Regions from separate parts of the Homo sapiens genome. Here region 2 is linked to region 1. A link means that fine-mapping ties the variant in region 1 to the expression of a gene that starts in the linked region. Tissue or cell type: atrial appendage. Region 1 holds a variant in brackets; the other region holds the start of a gene. All regions are shown on one strand. Distances are from middle to middle.

What was found. PIP is the estimated chance that this variant, and not a neighbour inherited with it, causes the effect.
Region 2: CYS1 starts here. The variant in region 1 is fine-mapped to the expression of CYS1 in atrial appendage (GTEx, PIP 0.99).

Annotation. Positions count from the first base shown.
Region 1 is chr2:10,142,851-10,150,952 of GRCh38, forward strand. It overlaps a transcript of RRM2 not described here. Among named protein-coding and RNA genes, the nearest start is that of RRM2, 24 kb to the left of the region's middle. RefSeq lists an enhancer at 1-480. The variant G/A (reference allele first, on the strand shown) is at 3,340.
Region 2 is chr2:10,075,890-10,083,990 of GRCh38, forward strand. It overlaps CYS1 (cystin 1), which reads right to left and starts at 4,522. Exons shown (of 3, transcript NM_001037160.3): 1 at 4,017-4,522. The coding sequence starts at 4,334. RefSeq lists silencers at 3,657-3,996, 4,067-4,306, 4,367-4,426, 4,597-4,836 and an enhancer at 7,081-7,140.

The sequences.
Region 1 (8,102 bases):
CTGAGTCTGAGCTTCTTTTTTGTTTTGTTTTGTTTGGTTTTGAGACAGAGTCTTGCTCTGTCACCCAGGCTGCAGTGCAGTGGCGCGATCTCGACTCACTACAAGCTCTGCCTCCTGGGTTCATGCCGTTCTCCGGCCTCAGCCTCCCGTGTAGCTGGGACTACAGGCGCCCACCACCTCGCCTGGCTAATTTTTTGTATTTTTAGTAGAGACAGAGTTTCACCGTGTTAGCCAGGATGGTCTTGATCTCCTGACCTCGTGATCTGCCTGCCTTGGCCTCCCAAAGGGCCGGGATTACAGGCGTGAGCCACCATGCCTGGCCTGAGCCTGAGCTTCTTAAACACCACATCCTCTAGCCTCCTGCCTTCACACAGGCTGTTCCCTTAGCCTGGACTTTGTCCCCACCCACCCGCTCCTGATCTTTCAGGTCTCAACTTACAGGTCACTTTCCCTGGGAACCTCCTCAGACCCAGTGAGGCCAGATTAGGGGCCTCCTCAGAGCCCTCATGGCCCCAAGTGTTTACCACTTCGCTTTTTCATACTATCCAAAGTGCACAGAATCGTACACTTTTCTGATGCCTTGTTCCAGCTGAGTGCCCTGAGGGCAGGGATGGGGTCCGTGTCCTCCGGTGTGCTCAGCCAGCACCTGGCCAGGCACTCTCAGTGTTGTTGAATGAATGAGCGAGTGAGTGACCCGCAGGGGAAGCTGCTGTGTCTGACACGGTAACGTGCAGGTTGCACTGGGGGGGCCTGGTTGAGATCATGACTGGAGTCCCTGGCCCCCAGAGTGGGAGTCATCAGTGGGGCTCGCTACCTCTGCACAATTTTTTTTTTTCTTTGAGACGGAGTCTTGCTCTGTCGCCAGGTGGTACAGTGGTACGATCTTGGCTCACTGCAACCTCCGCCTCCTGGGTTCAAGCAATTCTCCTGCCTCAGCCTCTCGAGTAGCTGGGACTACAGGTGTGCACCACCGTGTCCAGCTAATTTTTGTATTTGTAGTAGAGACGGGGTTTCACCATGTTGGCCAGGATGGTCTCGATCCCTTGATCTTGTGATCCGCCCGCCTTGGCCTCCCAAAGTGCTGGGATTACAGGCGTGAGCCACCACACCCGGCCCCTCTGCCCACTTTCTTCCCCTTCCTCCTCTCCCGTCTCCACCAAGGCTGTCTCTGGAGTGGCTGTGGATCTGACAGAATGCATGTCCGCTCTGCCATCACTATTCACGCACAGCGCCTGTTGGGGACTCTCCTGTAACCCAAGGGGGTAGCGGAAGGATGGAGCTTCAGGCCTTGAGGGCCAGGAAATGAATGTGGAAGACTGAATCCTCAGGGGACCCCAACTCTGGGCCGGGTCTGGGGCTCTGTTTTGAGGACGGGGAGTGGGAGGAGGTGGCAGCAGGAGCCGGCGTCTGAGGCATCTCCTCACACTCTTCCAAGGTCAGAGACGAGGTCTCAGATACGCTTGCTAATGCACGATTTATTTCTTTTTCAATTTCCTTTGGAACCTGTGCTGTGCAGATGTTCACATGATGTGGTGGGGAAGTGAGTTTTATAAAACTCTTGGCAGAGTACCATTCGGCATCCCTGTGGTTCTAGAGATTTCTGGGGCCTCGGGGCTGTAGCACCAGCTGCAGACAGCTGCCTGCCTTCTTACAGTGCTCAGCTTTTGGGTCCAGCAGCTTTCTCAGTCCCAAACACATGTGACCTCACGATTCTGGCCCTTCCATGATCCGCAACAAACTGTTCTGGTGTGTAGGTGGAATTCCTATTTTTAATAGCCAAGTTGTTGAGAAATTGTAGGGCTTCTACTTCCTTTTGAACGGAAGGGCTCCGGAGATATTTATATCTTTGCTTCTATAGAATCTAGGAGGTTGTCTTTACCCAGGGAGGGTCAGCATGTGGAGAGGGTCACCTGGGAGAGGCCCCGGTGTCAGCCTGCACTTGCCGTCAGTAAATGGTACGACATTGAGCACCAAGGAGCTCAGCCAGCCCCTCGAGGGAAGTCCTAGCTGCCCACTGGGGGAAGGGCGGGGAGGCATGAAAACAATGACCCCACTGGCTGGTGGGGGTGACCGTGTTATGCAAAGTGTACACCATGTAGCATGAGCACCGGGCCGGGAGCCCCCAAGGCTGCTGGGGAATCAGGGAGACACCAAAGAGGAGGTGGCCTTTCCCTTGAAGGGTAAGGGATCTGTAGGAGTCTGTGGGAGAGTGGAAGCTGCGGGAGGGAAAGGAGGGAGGGAAGGAGGCCTGGAGAGAGGAGGGAGGCTCTTGCATTCCAGGCAGGTATGGGAGCTCCTGGCAGAGTTTGCAGTACCCAGTGGCTCAGTGTGGTTGGAGTTGGCTGTGGGCCAGGTGGGTGGGTAGACAGGGGCCAGGTCTGGAGGGGTTTTTAGTGCTGTGCTGAGGGGTCTGAAGTCCATCCCGAAAGTTGTAACTGGGGAGTGGCACGGTGGTGAGTTAGAGCCACGTCATTCAAACTTTCTCAAATTCCCATACATAGAGACCTAGTGTGCACACTCGCAGCCCAGGCTTGTGAGCTGCAGTCGCCCTTGCCATGTGCAGCTCGTTCTGGCGTGTTCTGTTCTGCTTCTATTCTGGCTCATTTGTTCTATGAACAATGCTGTTTGCAATCCTCTACATTGGCTTCCTCTCTCCCTGAATATTTTTGATCTGCAGTTAGAACAACACTGGATTGGCAAGAGGGAGACTGAGGCGGGAACCCAGGCAGAGGCTGCTGTGAGTCCAGCTAGGATGAGACGTGGGTGCCAGACAGTGGGCCTGGGGCAGACCCCAGGGACTCCGCAGTGAAGACCCCACCTCAGTGGTCCTGGGCCCCAGGCCTCAAGAGACTTGGGGCAGCTCCCTAAGCAGCAAGAGGGGTCCTGTCATCGTGAGGCGTGTTGAGGATCCAGAAGCTGTGGTTTCATAACTCCGTCACTGTGTGGTGTCTGAAAGCCATTTCATTAAATGTCACATGGAATCAAAATAGAAATTACATCTCTGGGACAAAGCCCATTGAGCCAGGAGCCAGGGATTCTGAATTGGAACCAGAATAGCCTCCGAAGCTGGGACTGTGGATCCAAGGCTGCCCCCACCCCCTGGGTCTCGCTCACATCTGCACTCCCCAGAGGGGGCAGGTGGTCCTGGAGCCTAGCCTACCTGCCGAGAGTCAGAGGTGGCTGCAGGGGAACCATGGCAGCCCTCCTTCTCACACTCATCCTGGGCACCCTGCACCAGCAGAAGGGTTTACATGTACAATCACCCATCCCTAGCCCCTTCTGGGAGGGAAGCATATCTTACGGATGGCGACCTTGAGGCTCAGGGAGGTTAAGGTGCCA[G/A]CCTGAGATCACACAGCCAGTGAGAGGCAGAGACAGGGCTTAAACTCCAAACGATGGCTCCAGAGCCCCCTCTCTTTTCCATGCCCTGGGCTGCCTCTTTCCCCAGTGCACCTTGCTTTTTGGAACCAGATGACCAATGTGGAAAGACACGAACTGATTCAATCAGAGTGTATGGAGAAGGGACTTAGAGACCCTGGTATTTTTAAAGCTCCCTGGTAATTCTCATGTGCAGCTAGGGTGGGGCGCCTCTGCTCTGCGGAATAGGGAAGGGGTGTAAGTGGCCCTGTGTCTCCCCTCTGTCCCCACCTGCCACCTGCTGGTCCATCCATTCAGCCGTTGCACGGACAGGTTGCCTTCTGGGGGCTGCTAGCCCCCTTGCACTGGGCAACGCTGTGTCCCCTCTGTCCCTCCCCCCAGCGCATGCTCCTCGCTCTGCCCCTGCTGCAGGTGGGCCATGCTTGGAGGGCGCAGGAGAGCTGAGATGGGGTGGGGATGGATCAGGCCTTGAGAGGGTGCCTGGTAAGCCCCGGGAAGGGTAGGGAGGAGGAGGAGGGAGAGGAGAGGGCAGTGCAAGGGCAGCGACCCCCAGCCTTGCCCCCGTTTTGAGCACGGGGAAAGTGTACACAGGTAGTGAGGAAATGCCTGCGTTTGGGTGCGTGTTCATTTCTAATCCATTTTCACTTTTTGTGTATTCTTTCTATCTACTTTTTAAAGGTTTGTTTCTTTTCTAACTTCCTGTTTTAGATGTATACTTTAGTTTCTTTATTTATTTTTATTTATTTTTTTGAGATGGAGTCTCTGTTGACAGGCTGGAGCGCAGTGGCGTGATCTTGGCTCACTGCAACCTCTGCCTCCCGGGTTCAAGCGATTCTCCTGCCTCAGCCTCCTGAGTAACTGGGATTACAGGCGCGCACTACCACGCCCAGCTAATTTTTGCATTTTTAGTAGACATGGGGTTTCACCTTGTTGGCCAGGATGGACTTGATCTCTCGACCGCGTGATCTGCCCACCTCGGCCTCCCAAAGTGCTGGGATTACACGTGTGAGCCACTGGGCCCGGCTTAGTTTCTTTATTTAAAGATAAGGGTTTTTTTTTGTTTTGTTTTGTTTTTGAGACAGAATCTCACTCTGTTGCCCAGGCAGGAGTGCAGTGGCACAGTTGTAGCTCACTGCAACCTCAACCTCCTGGGCTCAAGTGATCCTCCCACCTCATCTGAGTATCAGGGACTACAGGCATGCACTACCACACCCAGCTAATTTTTGTATTTTTTTTGTAGAGACAGGGTTTCGCCCTGTTGCCCAGGCAACAAGCAAATCTGCCCACCTCAGCCTTCCAAAATGCTGGGATTACAGGCGTGAGCCACCACGCCCGGCTAGAGATAAGTTTCTCAAACTCCTGGGCTTAAGCCATCCACCCACCTTGGCCTTCCAAAATGTTGAGACTACAGGTGTGAGCCTTTGCATTCGCCTTGAATTCCTTTTTCAATAGTATGTTTCCTACTAAAAACACTTATGAAAAGTGTGTATTTTCTCTTACCCCTTCTCCTTTTTTGCCATCTAATTTTAGATTATATTTCTTAGTGTTTGTCTTTAAAATGTACTTATACCTCTATGCTATCTTTTTCTTATTTTTGCCCCCTCCCCCATAAGAAAGATAAAGAAATCAGAGACTTAGACCAGGTGTGGTGGTTCCCGCCTGTAATCCCAGCACTTTGGGAGGCTGAGGCGGGTGGATCACTCGAGGTCAGGAGTTTGAGACCAGCCTGGCCAACATGGTGAAACCCTGTCTCTAGTAAAAATACAAAGTTAGCCAGGCGTAGTGGCAGGCGCCTGTAATCCCAGCTACTCCAGAGGCTGAGGCAGGAGAATTGCTTGAACCTGGGAAGTGGAGGTTGCCATGAGCCAGGATCATGCCACTGCACTCCAGCCTGGGCAACAGAGTGAGACCCTGACTCAAAAAAAAAAAAAAAAAAAAAAAAAAAAAAGAAATCAGATACTAACAACTCTCTCCTTCTTTCTTTTCTTCCCAATTTTTGTTTAATGTATCATTTCTAAATTCATGGTTTATATTTATATATGTCCTTAATCCTCACTCACATTGCCCTACAGGTAGATTCATTGCTCACTGTCAGTTCTCTTGCTGAAGTTTTCCTATTTTTCTCTTGATTTGCTGAAATTCCTTCTCCAGTAGTTTAATCAAAAGGGACTAAATGAAAAAAAAATATTCAGTTATTGCAAGTTCAAAAAGGTTTCTAGTCTTTGTGTTTGATTGACAGCTTTCCAGAATATAAAATTCTTAGGCCACACTTTCTTTCCTTGAGAACTTCACAGATGTCACTTCTGTCTCTAGAGTTAAATGCCACTGTGGGAAAGTCTGAGTCTAACTTCTATTTTGTTACCCTTTATGAATTGATGTTTTCACTTGACTGTCCAAAGTCTTTTTTATTTAGCTGTTTCCCCCTTTCTTTTATATTTTTAGTCTAGTTACTTTCATAGAAATTACCTTGTTATTGACAGATTTTTGTCATTTTCCCCAAGACATGGTGTGCCCTTTCAGTTTGTAGATTTATCTTCTTTTACTTCAAGAAAATTTTCTTGAATGATATCTTTAAATATTTATGTTCCCCTATTTGAGTTTTCTATTCTGGGATATATGATGGGTCCTTTGTAGATCTTCCAAATCTGTAATTTTCTCTGTAATCTCTTTACACCGTTCATTTTCATTTCCTTTTGCTCACTTTCCTCAGTCTTGTTCTCAGTGTCTTGATTGTGTCTTGAGCAATATTTGATGCTCCTCTGCGCACCTTTCCATTTCATCATGACTTTGAAGATACGATGTTTTTCCTTCTTTCTCCAGCTCTGTCAGCTCCAGTTTCATGTTCCCCCTGAGCTCTCATATCTGTTTTGTGTGCTTGCTTTCTGGAGAGGATTGCTGTATTCATTTTTTTTTTTTTTTTCGAGATGGAGTCTTACTCTGTTGCTCAGGCTGGAGTGCAGTGGTGGGATCTCAGCTTGCTGCAACCTCTGCCTCCTGGGATCAAGCGATTCTCCTACCTCAGCCTCCCAGGTAGCTGGGATTACAGGCTTGCGCCACCATGCCCGGCTAATTTTGGTATTTTTAGTAGAGATGGTGTTTTGCCGTGTTGGCTAGGCTGGTCTCGAACTCCTGGCCTCAGGTGATCTGCCCGCCTCAGCCTCCCAAAGTGCTGGGATTGCAGGTGTGAGTCACTGCGCCCAGCCCTGCTTTATTAATTTTTGTTGTTGTTTAATTTTCAGCGAAAAGTTTGCTGGCAATTTTCATCTGTTCTATGACAACATTTTTACTAGTGAGTTTTCACTTGCCACTTGTTTTTCCTGTTCCTTTTCTCGTTTTTATTTTTTAATTCTTGCAGTGTCTTCCTGTAGATGCTGCGCTGTTTGCTTTTTTATTTCTCATCTTTGGGCAAGGTAAGTTTTTCTTCAACCATCTATTTGCCAGAGGTTTGTGTGGGAGAAGAAGCGAGGACTACACCCAGTGCCATGTGCAGTTGTAGGGCTGCTCATGTGCAGTCTGGTGATTCCTCTTTTTGCCTGCAAGTGTGGCTTGTCTGTGTGATTGTCTGTGTCTGATCTGCTGCTTCTGCTTCTTGGTTCCAAGCTTACCTGTATCTCACATGCCACTGTCATGAGATCACAGGCCCCACTCCTGCTCATGCAGATAAGGGACGTTGGTTGGTGGGCAGTGTGATCCCTTCTCACTGCTTCTTCCCAAACATCTGTGTGGTATTTCCTGCCTGGGCAACCCTCTGACTCGTTTCTAGTTTGGGTTTCATCTCTCATCTGTTTCCATTGGAAATGGAGTGTAGCTGGGCGCAGTGGCTCATGCCTGTAATCCCAGCACTTTTGGAGGACGAGGCGGGTGGATTGCTTGAGCCCAGGAGTTCGAGAGCAGTCTGGCCAAGAAGGTGAAACCCCATCTCTACTAAAAACACAAAATTAGCCGGGCGTGGTGGTGCAAGCCTGTAATCCCAGCACTTTGGGAGGTCGAGGCGGGTGGATCACGAGGTCAGGAGATCGAGACCATCCTGGCTAACACGGTGAAACCCCATCTCTACTAAAAATACAAAAAATTAGTCAGGCACGGTGGCAGGTGCTTATAATCCCAGCTACTGGGGAGGCTGAGGCAGGAGAATCGCTTGAATCTGGGAGGTGGAAGTTGCAGTGAGCCGAGATCACGCCACTGCACTCCAACCTGGCGACAGAGCGAGACTCTGCCTCAAAAAAAAAAAAAAAAAGATGGCGTTTGCATCCTGTTTCTCTTTCTCCTTGTTACTATGGGATGATTTTTTTTTTTCGACTTTATTGGTGTATAATTGACATACAATAAACTGCGCCTATTGAATGTGTTATTAGTAAGTTCTGACATATGTATACACCCATGCAGCTGTCACAACCATCAGCCACTAGACATCCTGTCACCCTCCACAGCTTCCTCATGCTGTTTCTTACCTCCACTCCCATTTTCAGACAAACTGACTGCTTTCCGTCGCCAGAGTTTACATTTTCTAGAATTTCATGTAAATAGAATCCTACAGTGTGTTGTGTTTTTTTTTTTTTTTTTTTGATGTGGTTTCTCTCACTTAGCATAGTTTTTTTTTCTTTTGAGAAAGAGTTTTGCTCTTGTTGCCTAGGCTAGAGTGCAATGGCGCGATCTCGGCTCACTGCAACCTCCACCTCCTGGGTTCAAGCGATTCTCCTGCCTCAGCCTCCCAAGTAGCTGGGATT
Region 2 (8,101 bases), 67 kb before region 1:
AAAAATACTGAATCTGGCTAGGCACAGTGACTTACACCTGTAATCCCAGCACTTTGGGAGGCCAAGGCAGGGGGACCACCTGAGGTCAGGAGTTCAAGAACAGCCTGACTAATATAGTGAAACCCCATCTCTACTAAAAATACAAAAAAATTAGCCAGGCGTGGTGGCATGCTCCTATAGTCCCAGCTACTCGGGATGCTGAGACAGGAGAATTGCTTGAATCCTGGAGGCAGAGGTTGCAGTGAGCCGATGCACTCCAGCCTGGGCGACAGACCAAGATTCCATCTCAAAAATAAAATAAAAATTAAAATTAAAATACTGAATCTATGTCTACTTGATTAAACCAAAATTTCTTCTCCAAGGGTTCCTTCAAATTTCACGAGGGCATCTAATGCTCAAAACCTCCTCTTATCCAGCCCATTCTGGGACTAAGATTTTCTGGTGAATTCCAGGTCCAGCAGCACCATCCCTACCGCCATCCACTACTGCTGCGCTGTAAAAAGAGCCTTCCTACAAGAGCTGACTGCACCGCCCTCCTTGTGTCCTATTCTCCATGAACTCCAGCCCAAGGCGCCTCCCACCACTCTCTGACCCATCTCTCACCAAGGACCTTGAGACCTCCCGAGTGGCTCAATTCAACCACCAGCTCTCAGGCTTCCCGCATATATCCCACCAAGCAGCACTTCCAGCAGCTGAGCACGCCCTCCGTCCTAAGCACCTTCCTCCCTTGGCTTCCGGATGTTCTCTTGGTTTTCTCCCCTTTACTGGCTGTTCTTTAGGATGCCTCTATCTCCTCAACCTTTGAACAGCGTGCTCAACCCCTGGCCTCGTCCCACGTTAGTTCACATACACGAAGCTCCCAGGACAGAGCCCGGTGCCCATCCATGCTTCCTAAGCACACGCTGGCAGCATCGTCACTGGTGATCCCATCTAATCTCATGGGTTTAAATCCTCCCATGTTCTAATGGCTTCTAAACGAACTCCAAACCTGACCTCTCCCCTGAATGCCAAACTCTTACAAAGATCTACTCACTTGACATTTCTGTTTGGATGTCTGACAGGCATCTCAAATTTAACATACTGAAAACCAACTTCCTGGTTAATGACACCCCAAACCTGCCCCTTCCACATTTTCTGTGTCTGTTCACGGCAGCTACATCCCTCCAGCTGCTCTGGCCAAGAACTCCTGGTTCACCTTTGATTCCTTTCTTTCTCACACATCCCAGTCACCCCACTAGTGAGTCCATAAGCCAACCGCCCCTCACCACCGCCCGCCAACCTGGTCCAAATGACCCCACATCTCACTTGGATGACTGCAGAAGCTCCCCTCCCCCAGCACAACCCCAGCTTCTGTGCCTGCCACCTCACTCCCCCTTTCTTCACTCCAGCGAGACTCTGTCTCAAAAAACAAAAACAAAAACAAAACATAATATTCAGAATGATGATTCAGGGATAAACAGACCATCTCTAAGACATTCCCAGTCAACAGTGGTCAAAATTTTTAAATGTGAGTGCTTAAAAGAATAACTTTCACTTGAGTTTGATGTTCTTTTATGAAGAATATGTCTCTCCTCCAAAATGCTAGACAGTTATGAAGCTATTAAAGGTTTCTTTTCCTCCTTTCTTCCTAAAGAAACTAAAAGTAGTGTTATTGGCCGGGTGCAGTGGCTCACACCTGTAATCCCAGCACTTTGGGAAGTCAAGGCGGGTGAATCACCTGAGGTCAGGAGTTCAAGACCAGCCTGGCCAACATGGTGAAACCCTGTTTCTGCTAAAAATACAAAAATTAGCTGGCCGTGGTGGCGCACATCTGTAGTATGCAGGCGTTATCTGAAAATAATGAATTGGACCCAAGGGCTCCCTTCCGCCTCGAATAATCTGTGATTCTAGGATTCATTTATTCAAGAAATATTTATGGTGCAGAAAATACATACAGTCGGCTGGGTGAGGTGGCTCATGCCTATAATCCCAGCACTTTCGGAGACCAAGGTGGGCGGGTCACCTGAGGTCAGGAGTTTGAAACCAGCCTGGCCATCATGGCAAAACCCCGTCTCTTCTAAAAATACAAAAATTGGGCGTGGTGGCAGGCACCTGTAATCCCAGATACTCAGAAGGCTGAGGCAAGAGAATCGCTTGAACCTGGGAGGCACAGGTTGCAGTGAGCCGGGATCACACCACTGGACTCTAGCCTGGGCAACAGAGTGAAACTCCGTTTCAAAAAAAAAAAAAAGAAAGAAAGAAAAAAGATACACACAGTTCACACCCAGAAGGGCAACTGCAGCTGGCTGACCTCCTCAACAATTCCTGAAACCATCTCCTCTGCAAGCCTCTCACCGCCACTGCCTTGGTTCAGGACTCGGCCACCTGGATCATTGCAGACTCCCCCACCCACTCACACAGGTGGTCATGTTATCCCTAGTCTGACTCTGTCCAGTTCATCCTCCCTACAGTTGTCGGTGTGACGTTCCTAAAACACAAACTGTCACAATCCTTACCTTTCAGATACCCAGAACTTTCATAGTAACCCAAACTCGCTAACATGGAATACCCTTGGCATGGCGCACTGCAGCCTGGCATACTCTCCTAAGACCTCTCTGACCCATGCCCTGGGCACCAGCTGCCCCAGCCACCAGTGACATTAGGCATGAGGTTCTCTCTGCACAGAACTTGCTGCCTGGATCACGTCCACAGACCCTTCCAGATTCAGGACAACTTCCAAATTCATCCCTTCGGGAATGCCTACCTGCCTCCCTTGGGATTAGCCGCTTTCTCCTGTGGCCTTTTGATACGGATCTCTCATCGCCCTGCTTTCTACTTTCCCCCATCGAGCTGCAGACTTCTTTAAGGCAAGGGCTATGCTGTGTGGCCTCATCCCTAGCACCCACAGCGGGACCGGTGCTCAAAGGATAGCTGGAAAATGACTTAAAGAGCGAGCAGTCACCATGATGAATAATATCAGCAAATCAGAGGGCACAACATTCACTCTTGCTATTTGCCTCTCATTTTCACCTCCGAGTTTCCAAAGCACTTGAAAATGAACACTAAAATTAACTGCCTCCTTGCTATGTGTGAATTCCTCCCAAATTTCTCAGCTATTTGTCCAGGCAGTGTTATATAACTGCAGGCTGATGTGGTATTAAAGGAATCTTGTTATATAATTCAGCCCTACTCACTGCAGCTCGCTTTTCCTCTTTAAAGACCGTAAGGGAGAGGAGCAGGGAACCAGGGCCAGAGGGAGAGAGCTCTGTGCACTGTCGCCTGGGGCTGTCCCTCTCCCCCACCCTCCCTGGGGCCTTTTCAGGATTCCTTGGTGCGGTAGCCACCCAGGAAGGCATCTTCCTCGGCTCCCAGCGGCTGCTAAGCAAAGCCTCCCGGGCCTCAGGGAGGAGGACGAGGCCCTTGGCATCCTCCCCGAGCCCGGGAGCGGATGTTAAAGATCTTGTTCATTCAGCTCTGCTGGAGCGAAGACGGTTGCCAAACCAGAGTGCTTGTTTTATTGTTTTTTTAGAACAGCAGGACTGTTATTACGAGTATTCAGGGAGAGAGAATAGGAAGCGCAAAAGAGATTCCGCAGCATCCTAAAAATATCAGTAACATGAGAATTGCCTGCCCAGCAAGGCAAGGATCTGGACCGGTGGGCGCGGCAGGGCGCTTCTGAGCCACCGTCTGGCTGCCGTGCCACCACCGCCGGCGCCCCGCTCCAGGGCGGCCCGGGAAGGCCAGGCGGGGCCGCGGGCCCGAGGGGAGCCGGGAGCCCGGCGCGCTCCGCCTAGGGGTGTCCTTCCTCGGCCGCTCCCAGCGCGATCGCCCCCACGCCTGGACACAGACCCGGAGACGGGGCAGAGAGGGAGGAAACCTGGGGGCCCAGGGGCGGGGAGGCCGGGGCAGCGGGGAGCACGCAAGTCGGAGGCTGGAAGGGGGCGCAGCGCGACCGGCGCCCAGGGCTGGGGCGGGGACGCGCGGCCGGTGAGTGGGGTCCCCGCCGTCCCCCGAGGCCCTGCGGCTCCCACACTCACCGCGCTCCCCGCGACCGCGGTGGGTCGGAGCCGGGCTGGGCGGCGCGGGGCGGGCTCCGGGGGGCCCCAGGCCGCCGACTCGGCCAGCAGCTCGTCCAGCAGGCGCAGCGTCTCGTCCCTGCCGTCGGGGGGCGCCACGGGGCTGGGGTCGCGGCCGGGCGCCTCCTCCGCGGCTGCCCCCGGGACCTCGGCCGCCGCCACCGGCACCCGCCGGCGGGTCCCGCCCTCCAGGGCTGCCGCTCCGGGCCCCGCGGGGAGGCTCTCGGGGCTGCGCCGCCGCCTCAGAGTCCGGCTGCTCCGGCTGCTGCCGCTGCCCATGGCGCGCCCGCCGCCTCCCGGACCGCCGAGGGGGCCCCCATGAGGGGGCGCGGCCGGGGGCGGGGACGCTAGGGGGTGCGGCCGGGGCGGGCTGCAGGGGGAGGCGCGGGGCGAGGTCCGGGAAGCGACCGCGGCCAGGGGCTAGGGTTCCCGGGCGGGGGTCGCGGCCGGAGGACGGGGGTGCGAGCCGGAGCCTGGGGAGGGGCGGGCGAGGCAGGGCTGCATAGGCGTCCCGAGGGGGCGCACACCGGCCCTAGGGAGGGGCGGGCCCGAGACCCCGGCGAGGAGCACCGGGTGCGGGCGCGGCCTCCCCTCCCGGGTCTCCCCCTACAGTCCCCCCACTCCCGCCCACGGGTCCCCTCGCTCCCCGCCGTCGGGTCAGCCCTGTCCCGGCCTTCTGGAATTGCTGAACCCTGCGGGGGGCCCGGCTGAGTTTGTTCATTTATGGAAACGCTCCCCAGACGACGCTCGCCGGGCCCGTGGGAGGCCGCGGGAGCTTGGGGGGACTTCCCAAAGCCTGAGCCCCCTAGCGATGCGCGGGGTGGGCGGGGGAAAGACCCTGAGGGCTGCGCGCGCTGCGTTCGCGAGGTCCGGCCGTCAGTGCGCCCCGACCTTTCAGTGTCCGCCAGGCCTGAGACGCCCCGGGAGGGAAGGGGCGATCCTCCGGGCACCAACAGCCCCCTCCGGCCTTCTCCTTCCCTCTGTTGCCCCAGCGGAGACTGGATGTGTGAAGGTTGAGCCTCATCAAAACCTCCAAATAGTCACTACTTTTGGGAAAGAAAAACTTTGAAAATGAAGGAGAAAGGCAAAGCAACCCCCACCTCGCCCTCCCCCCGCCACAGGAAAGAAGCAAAAGGAAATACCTAGGTGGTGGTCATAAGTCTAGCTTTTGGTCTCGGATTTTTTTTTTTTTTCCCTTAACCGCTTTTCTTTTTAAGTGAACTAACCACAACCCAGACTAGAAAACACTCCAAAGCTGCCGAATTCAAACCCAGCGAGCCTTCCTGTTGGTTGGTTCTGTGTTTTACTTAAATGTGATTACTTCCTTCCCTTGCCCACCTCCTGCAACTTTAAATTCCAGCCTTTCCAAGACAGGGCAATTCAAAAGTCCTGGGTTTAACTCACCTATCTTGACTTGACATTAACTTTTATCCTGATTGATTGGATTCCAGAATAATTGTGAAAATGGAATTTCGGCTAAACTTTCCCAACCACAGACTTGAAATTCTACTATTTTATCACTTCAGGAGTAGACATTAAAAAACATATGCCTAAGAAAATGGAATAAAAATGGGACTCAGATTCACATCCATTTATTTTTATTATTAAGAGAGAACAAGAGGCCGGGCGCGGTGGCTCACGCCCGTAATCCCAGCACTTTGGGAAGCCGAGGCAGGTGGATCACGAGGTCAAGAGACCGAGACCATCCTGGCTAACACGGTGAAACACCGTCTCTACTAAAAATACAAAAAATTAGCCGGGCGTGGTGGCGGGCGCCTGTAGTCCCAGCTACTCAGGAGACTGAGGCAGGAGAATGGCGTGAACCCGGGAGGTGGAGGTTGCAGTGAGCCGAGATCGCGCCACTGCACTCCAGCCTGGGCGACAGAGTGAGGCTCGTCTCAAAAAAAAAAAAAAAAAAAAGAACAAGAAAGTATTTATAATCTAGCTGGACGTGGTGGCTCATGCCTGTAATCCCAACACTTTCAGAGGTTGAGGCGAGCAGATCACTTTAGGTGAGGAGTTTGAGACCAGCCTGGCCAACATGGTGAAACTGTCTCTACTAAAAATACAAAAATTAGCTGGGCATGCTCACTTGAACCCAGGAGGTGGAGGTTGCAGTGAGCCGAGATCACGCCACTGCACTCCAGCCTGGGCAACAGAGCTGGACTCTGTCTCAAAAAAAAAAAAAGAAAGAAAGAAAAGAAAAGAGAGAGAGAAGAGAGGTGAGACAGAGAGGGAAAAGAAAAAGAAGAGAAAAAAAATGAGGCTGTAATCCCAGCACTTTAGGAGGCTGATGCGAGCGGATCACTTCAGGTCAGGAGTTCGAGACCAGCCTGGCCAATAGGATGAAACCCTGTCTCTACTACAAATACAAAAATTAGCCGGGCATGGTGAAGGGCACCTGTAGTCCTAGCTGCTCGGGAGCCTGAGGCAGGAGTCACTTGAACCCGTTAGGCGGAGGTTGCAGTGAGCCGAGATCGCACCACTGTACTCCAGCCTGGGCAACCAAAGAGACTCCGTCTCAAAAAAAAAAAAAAACAAAACAAACAACAACAACAACAAACAATAAAGAAAAAGCAAAAAGAAAAGAAAAAAAATTTTTTAAAGGGAAGTATTTATGATCCCCCCTGCCTTTTTTTTGAGACGGAGTCTCGCTCTGTTGCACAGGCTGTAGTGCAGTGGCCGGATCTCTGCTCACTGCAACCTCCGCCTCCCGGGTTCAAGTGATTCTTCTGCTTCAGGCTCCTGAGCAGCTGGGATTACAGGCACGCACCACCACATCCGGCTAATTTTTGTATTTTTAGTAGAGACAGGGTTTCACCATGTTCGCCAGGCTGGTTTTGAACTCCTGACCTCAGGTAATCCACCTGCCTTGGCCTCCCTAAGTGCTGGGATTACAGGCGTAAGCTACCGTGCCTGGCCTCTCCCCCCCTTTTTTTTGATGTGCCATCTTAACCATCCAGGTGTAGGATGTGGGGCCAAACACAGATGTCATTTGGGTGCGCTAAGTCTACAGATGTGTCTCGTTTGGAAGCTATTGATATAAGTTTTTAAGAAAACAAATCTCATCTTGAAACTCTTTAAACCCCAAAGAACAACAACACTTAGAGGCAAACGAGATTTTTCTTGAGTTCACTCAGTTTAATGATTTAAAGGAAAACATGTTTTGCTTCTGCCTAAATAGAAGCTAGTCATGTGACTCATGTTTAAATACATCCACAGCTCCCTGTGTTCACCTCCCAGGGCAACCAATTTTTCTGGCCACTCTTGATTCCAACACTGTTTCCCAAAACTTGTCATTAGCTCCGCTTCAGCGGGAGGAATGCCAGAGCCAGCATTCTTTCCACTTTGAGAGAACATTTTAAAATCTGCTACATTTGTAGACCTGGCTTCCATCAAATATGCTGAAAACTCAGATTGATTTTATTAGAAGCTTCCCATAATAAGCAAACAACCTAAAAGCTTTCCGCATGACTAATGTCCCTAAGATCGTCTCTAGAATTTTTGTCCGAAAGAGTTAGCAACGTCTCAGGAATATTGGAGAACTGAAATGGGGTGTAATCCTTCTTAAGAAAATATCTGGCAGTCACACCTGCAGCTGAAGGATTCTTTTATGCGGTGATAGTGCTCGTGGGTGCTGGTGATGGTGGGTGGAAGGTGAAGCCCAGTTTGGGAACTCTCTGCTTAACTCTGGGAAAATAGAACTTCCTTTCCTTAAACAAATTAAACCCTGGAAGAGGACTACAGTTGGTGATACTTTTCGGAAGGACTCGGGCGCCCGAACGATGTTTTCCTTGGTTTCAGGAGTAGCCAGGCATCTACTGCAGATGAAGCCAGTTCCTCCCACCACGACTCATGGACCAGTCATTACAATAGCCTGCCAAACCAACCCACCTTTCAAAACCCCACTCCAGGGCCCCTGCTTCAGGACTCGCAGATCTACTCTCCCTGCTCAGATATCCTGCAGTTTCCCACCAATCATGGCACTCCCAAGCCGTTACGTAAGAAAGATGTGTTGTGCAGGTGCTGGTTCTTATGAATATGCA